Homo sapiens: one gene and its partner. The protein of the gene in region 2 interacts with the protein of the main gene of each other region in a biochemical or structural test. Each region holds a gene or a part of one and is shown on either strand. Other genes may lie near its edges. The genes, in order: SIRPG and CD47.

Region 1 (3,815 bases), on a different chromosome or scaffold from region 2:
GGTACACCACTGTGATAAAGCTGGTCCCTGCCATAATTCCTCTTCTTGTCCTCCTCTTCTGTGACTTAGTGACACTGAAACGTTCTAGTAAAACCCATCATGCTTTTTCTTGGTGTCCTCCACCCTGACTCCCATTAAAGGCAATGGCTTCTCATCTCTCATCTCTCTTGCTTCCCCATCTGCTTGGTTGAGCCTACTCCCTGGGAGCTCCTCCCATATGGCTTCCTGTGTGGCATGCCCTACCCAGCTATGCCTCTCCAGATGAAATTCTCATGACCAGGTTAGAGTGATCCTTTAAGACACAACCTGCAGGACTTACTCTACCATTTTCAACACTAATGGCAATGAGGAGGGGATTATTCTAAACCGGGGTAGCAAATTCCTAGGAGATGCACTTTGACTGTTCATGGCTTACGGATTTGCTACTGATTGGCTCCACAATTTGAGAAGGTTTTTTTTTTGCCCTGATGCCTTTCTTGTGTTGTGCTATGCACAGCTATGTGTTGCCTTTTGGAGTGCTGCCAAGACTCTCTATCCTAAAATGTGTATCCTATTCCAATATCAATAATGACAGCTGCCTTTCTTCAAGAGCACAGGATGTTATAGCAACCTCTTCAAAGAAGACTCATGTGATACTTATAATAATATCACATAATCCAGCATCTCTGAGTTGTTTTGAGGTGCCAGTGGCAATGTATTCTACATTTACAAATTTTACTTGCAAATTAAAATCAACAGGCACTCCTTTTAGTGCTTTCAAACAAACAAAAATACCTCTTCTCTCTAGAGACTTTGGCAATGATTTTCATTCCTCTTGGAATTTCTAGACCACTCCTGATGGTCATAAACTTCCCCAGGGCTTCTAACGCAAAACAAAAAATAAAACAAAACAAAAAAGCCCCTCTCTGCCTTGTTCTTTACTTCATTCTAACAAAAAATGACTGGTTATCTACTAGAATCTACTGGCTTGTGGTCCAGATCTAGGGGGAATATTTCCTGTTGCAAGCATTAACCACTGGTTGTCTCACAGGCCAGTCCCTGCTCATCTGAAATGGGTCCCACTGGAACTTAAACTTCTACTGAAACACAAAATTAAAATTTGTCAGGTGCAGCTGCACACCTTTCTGTTGACAGTGGCCTTATTACTACTGGATTTGTTGATGCAACAATCCTCAACCAAATACTAGCTAACTGAATTGAACAGCATGTAAGAAGGATTATAAACCATGAACAAGTGGTATTTATTCCTGGAATATGAGTATGTTTCAATATACAAATGACAGACAAACAATATGGTATTCTACAAATATTTATTTATAGAATAAATAGAAAAAACACATGATCATCTATTTTGATGCAGAAAAGCATCTGGTAAATTTGTACATCTATTTACGATGAAAACAATAAAAAGGATATATGAATACTTTCACAAGATGATAACATTCACCTACTCATACTTTATTTTTATTGCACTTATCATTGTCAAAAATTAATTTTTTCATTCACCTATTTATCATGTGTATTGATTACTGTCTTTCTCTGCAGTGGATGTAAGCAACAAAAGGGCAATTACTTTTTCTCTTTTATTCTACCAAAGTACCCCATGTTTTTATGTCAGATCCTGGCACATAGTAGGTATCCAATAGATATGTGTGTAATGTTTGAATTGCTCAGTGGGACATTTCCCTCGAAGACTGAAATCTTCTATTTTAGGTGGTTTGCTCCTGTGGAATTTGACAGAAAATGAGTTTCCCATGTAGAGGACTTAGTGAAAAAAAATCAGTTTGCAAACATACAGAAAGTAGAAGAGCCCAGAGAAGAAAACCACAATCTCCCTTCACACCACATTGCCCACTCCACACCCAAGAGCAGCAGCTGCAGAAATCTCATGGAATAGAATCAAGACCGGAAGTGTTTGAGTAATGGTGAAACCTGTGACCTCTAGAGTCAGAGTGCCTGAGTTCAAATCGTAGCTCTACCAGTTACCAATGAGTGAGCCTGGAGCACTTTGTGCTTCTGTTTTCTTATCTGTTAGGAAAGGTGACAAGAATATCTACCTTGTATATAATGATCACATGAAGTAAAAGAGGTAAGGCATTTTCAACAGTGTCTGCCACATGGTGAACGTTCAAAAATTGTAAAGTTATTGCTCAGTAGATTTCTGAGGCTTGGAGGCTTCAGTGGACATTAGATGACAAGGATAAGGATAAGGGTATGGATATGGATATAAATATAACTATAGTTATAGGTAATATAGGCAGACCTGTGTCACCTGTATCCCCACATTTTTTTCCTCATTTCTACCTTCATGGAAGAGGGAATTTCAGGATAAAAATGCACAGAAATTCTGCTTTGAGGGAAAATGCATTTTACCAAGAGAGAAGTTTGCTTATCTGTTGCTTCTATTAACAGATTGGAGGACTTTCAGTGGTAAGATTAGAGAAGTAGGAAGGAGGGAGAGTGGCTGGGCAATAGGGAAAACCACACATCTCTTCAATGTGCATTTCATATAGACTGAAAAAATGAGTTGAAGTTTACAGTAAAGAAAGTCTTTAAAATTCTGTGTGTGTTTCAGCATGGTCACATGAGATTTATCTCAGGAATGCAAGGATGGTATAACATTCATAAATCTCCAAATGTGATATGCTACATCAAGGCAATCTTGAGCAAAAAGAACAAAGATGGGGCCGGGCATGGTGGCTCATGCCTGTAATCCCAGCACTTTGGGAGGCCGAAGCGAGCAGATCACGAGGTTAGGCAATCGAGACCGTCTTGGCCAACATGGTAAAACCTTGTCTCTACTGAAAATACAAAAAATTAGCCAGGCATGGTGGTGCACACCTGTAGTCCCAGCTACTTGGGAGGCTGAGGCAGGGGAATCACTTGAACCCGGGAGGTGGAGATTGCAGTGAGCTGAGATCACACCACTGCACTCCAGACTGGCGACAGAGCAAGACTGCATCTAAAAAAAAAAAAAAAAAGAACAAAGATGGAAGCACCACACTGCCTAATTTCAACATTGACTACAGTGTCAAAGTAATCAAAATGGCATGGCACTGGCATAAAAAGAGATATATAGACCAATGGATCAGAGCAGAGAGCCCAGCAATAAACTCACACATTCACACTCAATTGACTATTGACAAAAGTGTGAAGAAAACACAATGGTGAAAGGTCTGTCTCTTCAAAAAGTGGTGCTGGGAAAGTTGGATATCCATGTGTAGGGGAATGAAATTAGGCCTTCTTCTCATGCCTCATACAAAAATCAACTCAAAATGGATTAAAGATTTAAATGTAAGATCTGAAACTGTACAAGAACTAGAAGAAAAGTTTCATGACATTGGTCTTGGCAATACATTTTTGGATTTGAGCCCCAAAGCACAGGCAACAAAAGCAAAAATAGACAAAAGGCATTAACAACAAACTAAAAAAGCTTCTACCCAGCCAAGGAAACAATCAACAGAGTGAAGAGACAACCTATAGAATGGAAGAAAACATTTGCAAACCATACATCTGATAAGGAGTCAGTATACAAAATATATAAGGAAGTCAAACAACTCAACCATAAGAAAACAACCCTATTAAAATATGGGCCAAAGATCCGAATAGACATTTCTCAGAAGAAGACATTAAGATGGCAAGTCAGCGTATAAAAAAAAATCCAACCTTACTATTCATGAGATAAATGCAAATTAAAACCGCAGTGGGCTATCATCTCACACCTTTAAGAATGGCTATTATCAAAAAGAGGAAATTTAGTATTGGAGAAGATGTGGAGAAAAGGGAACCCTTGCAGACAGTTGGTGGGAATATAA
Region 2 (4,472 bases):
ATGAAAATAGAAATGTTTATCTTGTATAAAAAGGTAGGCAGAAACCTAAGACAGGGAAAGTGATTGAAAATTATGCCACAAAAAGAACATTACTATATTAAAAGCAATGCCTATATACTAGCTATAGCTGAATTCATACTATGAAATGCAAATCTAGTTTTGCGAATATGCGTGATTATTTTGGATTTAGAATATGTATCAATTTGGGGGGAAAGTCATCTATCTCTCATCTTTAGAACTTGGCCTTTCAAATCTCCATGAACAACTCAGTGACAAAGATAAAACATCTGCCAAAACACAGATGACAGCATGAGCAAGTGTCCTAATGGTAGGCATTTAGTGTAATGCTTTAAAAAACACTGCCTCTAGACTGCTGGGGCGGCCCCATAAATACGTACTTTTAAATAGGCATTTACTTCCTTAAAATGGCAACTTGTAATTAAAAATAATATATTCTTTAAGAGAAAACATTTTTATTTAAACAAGCCAAATTACTACTAGACTTAGACGATGGAAAAAAATTTTATTTAATCATATGTACCCTGATTTAAAAAAAAAAACAACTCATTTTGAACAAAGAGGAATCATTCAACCACTGAAAAGACAGTTCACAACACCATCATTATTTATTTAAAGTTTTATTTGCTAGCTAATAAATACCACTGAAACTATGCACTTTTAAACAAAGTATAATTGTACATGAGTGGGGGCAGAGTGGAATGCAACATAGTAATTCATTTCACATCTTGCATACCATTAAGGTGCCTTCCAGTTTGCCTGTAATTGCATGAAATGAGTATCTGAGATAACTTCTTTTACCACAAAGGCCACTAACACTGTAGAGGGTGCCAGGAAAGGTCCCTGATTCCCGGGGCTTAATTAACGAAACTGAAAGCAAAATCAAACTTCAATACAAATGAATGTACAGATCCATCACTTTCTTACTCATTCTAGATTCTAAAGTCAGTCTCTCAAACCCTTGGTTTATAACTACCTATGTGCTGAGACATCTTTCTTCATACATGTCCTTTTGAAGCTATATATTAAACACATACAAAAACATATTTTATAACAAATACTATCCTGTTTTACAGTCCACACTTAACACAACTCAACTGCATAATGCCTGTATTTTGCTTTTTTTTTAGGTTAATATTAACTAAGTAAAATAAAATACTATAAATTCTGAATTCGATGACTCTAGGGATTCGAACACATTAAAATTGTGTGTAAACGAGTGCTAATTACATGATATTAACTATTACTAAAGAAGGCCTAACATAAATCCTATCACTCAAAGTACCATTCCAACAGTTCTAAACTACGTGATTTAAATCTAACCTACCTGTTTTAAAAATAGTATATGGTTTATACTTTTTACTTTTTAGGCAGTTTGAATAAATGATACTGTATCACTTCATATCTGGTTCAATATGAAGGCGTTCTGAAATTATTATGCGATTATACAACACATCTCTGAAAGCAGTATTATTTTAGCTATAATGATAGTAAAGGCAACAAGCATACTAAACGTGATGACAGGAAACACTAACATCAACCATTTAGATAACGGAGACCTGGATTCACAGTCCCAACATCCAGGATGCTCGGGGAGGGAGGAAAGTGGTAAGCAGAGACTTAAGGGCATCTTGGAAATACCTAAAGTCACAAGCCTTTAGGAACGGCACACCGAGGCTAATAATCAGTTTAAAATCGAATTAATTTAGCATTCTAGAATAAATGTAACAATTGCTGTCACTGGTGCTCAAGCTGAATTCTGAATCTTATAAAAGTTCACAAAAGGCTCTATGGATGTGAAGTGTGACAGGCACTCACTGTAGAGCTACGAATGTTTCTATTCCTTGCTCAGTTTTTACAGACGAAGCACACGTTTTACAAAAGCGAAATGGATTCCAAAAGCTCGGGGTGGGGGTGGGGGGGTGGAGGTTCTTTGGCGTCGAAAAACACCAAATCCCATTCTGCTGCACATGTTTTGACTGGAGGTTACTGTCTTCCTATTTCAGGCGAAAACCAGATTACTTTTAAAACGGTTCCCCCAAATAAAGTGGGAAAAACTTCAACGTACAATTTAGAATGTATGCAAGTGGCTGATGGGGCGTGAGGGTCACGAGAAAGGAAGAGTTTCCAGCAAGCTTATTTTTAGGATTAAAAACGACAGCAAAAATTACACGGCCGGAAGATTCTTCTGATTGAATGCTGAGTTGAAAATGAAACTTAATTGTGTCCTTTACGTCCTCTTCGCTCCTATGTTCATGTGGGAGGCAAACGGCAGAAACCCCTTCTCACCGACTTCGCCAAAATGCGCACTTCCATCGCAAGAGGCCCGGGCCCTCCCACTCTCCCTCCCTCAACCCCAAATGCGTCTAAGCACTGAGAAGGGAGAGGGGTGCGAAAGAAGGGGATCCCTAGCAGCTGCAGCCCCTTGCCTCTGATCGCGCCCTTTCTTGCTAGTTAATTTTTGCGCGAGGTGCGCGGTTTGGAGTCTTCCTGTGTGTGTGCATTTGGAGATGGAGAACCGGGTGGAGGAGATGAGCCCCGCTCTCACCCAGGGGGAAGAAGACGACCAGGGAAAGGAAGGGAGGAAGAAGGGGGGCGCCCGATTCCCCGTGGGGCCCTCCCACGTCTGCACTTCGGGCGCTCAGGGCCCGAGTGTTCTGCGCCCCGGCCACCCTCTTCAGGGCGCCGCCGGGCTGGCTGGGGCGCAGCCCACACGCCCGCGGGGGCGAAGCGACAGCAGCCGCAGGGCTGGGAGCGAGGAGCCACTCACCGCAGCACGCCGAGCCCAGCAACAGCGCCGCTACCAGGGGCCACATCTCCGCGCCCGCCGCGGGGTCGCCGCCGCCGCCGCAGGTGTCCGGAGCAGCAGCCGCCGCCGCCGTTACAGGCAGGACCGACCGCCGCCGCGCGTCACAGGCAGGACCCACTGCCCAGGCTGCACGGCCGCGCGCACGCGCGCTCCCACTGCTTCCCGCCCGCTCCCCCGCCTGCTCCCCGCCCGCGAGAGCCGCGCACGCGCACTCGGCCCCGCCCCGCAACCGCTGCTGTTGACGCGGCGCCCTCCCCAGTCGCAGGCTCCAGACCCGGGGCCCGCCTGCCCGCTCCACGGAGGCCGGATGCCTGCTCCAGGGCGGTGGCACGCGCCGCGCTTCCAGGTCACGTCCTGTCGCACCCGCCCGCCCCTGGGGTCCGCGTGCTCGCCCGCCGCAGGAGGCTGAACCCTGTGTTCCCACGCTCGCCGGGGACCTCATTGCACCCGTTCCTGTCCGCGGGTCGGTTCCTGCCTTTCGCGCGGCGCTGGGCCCCACTGTCCTCTCTCTCTACTTTTCTCCTCTTTGCTTTCACTCCCACCCTCGCGCTTCAGGGGCCGGGTCCCGTCCCGCCCCAGCCCGCGTCTCTCCCTGGACCCGACGTCCGGCTGCGCGCGTGGACCAGGACACCTAGGCTTTCACCAGCGCCCGTTTCCTCCGGACGCGGCCGTCTAGCGCCGAAGCGGTCCCTGAGCCCGAGGCCGCCACGCCCAGGGCAGGGCGGTGGTCGGGTACCTGCCCGCAGGGAGCTTCCACTCGCCCCTCGCGGGCTCTGCGTTCGGCTCGTCTACTCGCTCTGCTCTTCCCTATGCGGTTCTCTTCCCTCTTTCTCACTTGGTTCTTTAGTGTTTTCATCCTCTGATCAGGGTTAATCAAACAAGTTCCATTCACGGTGGTAAACATTGTTACCTGTGAACACCGCCACCACCGGGACTAGCGAGCATTGTCGCAAACAGGCATTAGCAGCGTATCCAACACATCCCCACCAGCAAGGTTATTGAGCTTGGTTTGTGACTGCCCCATGTGCAGCCCTCTGCGCTGCGCTTGGGTTTAACATGCTTGAAAAATGGGTTCGAAATGTGGCCGCAAGCCACAATAGGGACAAGGCTTTTGAATTTATCGCTGAATCACACAGGCCACATCATTCATCCTGAAGCAAAAGTCTTTTAAAGATACTTTTAACCGTTATCCTAACTGATGTACTCTCTTATCAAAAAGTCAGGCTCTGGTGGCTGCTCTAATGGAGTGCACATCCTGTCCACCTCCTTGATTGTTTTCCTCCTACCTCCTGGGAAAGAAAGCAATTTCCCACCACAATACCCCACTTCTCCAAATCCTCTACACAGTGCGGCTCCTCCCAAGCATCCCATTGCCACAGAAATAAAATCCAGCGTATGAAAGTGGCACTGTCTATGACACTCTGTACCAGTGTATTGTATACTATCGAGCTTCTTCCTGTAATTGCTTTTTTGTGTGAACCTCTTCCCCACAGCATTATCAATTCTTTTAAATCCGAGAGCATTTTAAGTATTCCCTCCTCCAAGACTTTCCATTGAGCTCGGCAAACAGAAGGGGTTTAATAAATGTGTTGATGCGGCGTGAGGCAGGCATTGCTCTAGTGAAATTTGATTGCTTTTTTAATGA

What was found.
Region 1: the proteins of CD47 (region 2) and SIRPG form a complex in vitro, tested with the Homo sapiens proteins (one large-scale study listed by IntAct).

What each region holds. Positions count from the first base shown.
Region 1 is NC_000020.11:1,651,273-1,655,087, forward strand, and holds part of SIRPG (signal-regulatory protein gamma isoform 1 precursor), read right to left. Parts: intron 1-3,815. UniProt on the Homo sapiens protein: Probable immunoglobulin-like cell surface receptor. On binding with CD47, mediates cell-cell adhesion. Engagement on T-cells by CD47 on antigen-presenting cells results in enhanced antigen-specific T-cell proliferation and costimulates T-cell activation.
Region 2 is NC_000003.12:108,088,075-108,092,546, forward strand, and holds the start of CD47 (leukocyte surface antigen CD47 isoform 1 precursor), read right to left. Parts: upstream 2,958-4,472; 5' UTR 2,835-2,957; coding exon 2,789-2,834; intron 1-2,788. UniProt on the Homo sapiens protein: Adhesive protein that mediates cell-to-cell interactions. Acts as a receptor for thrombospondin THBS1 and as modulator of integrin signaling through the activation of heterotrimeric G proteins.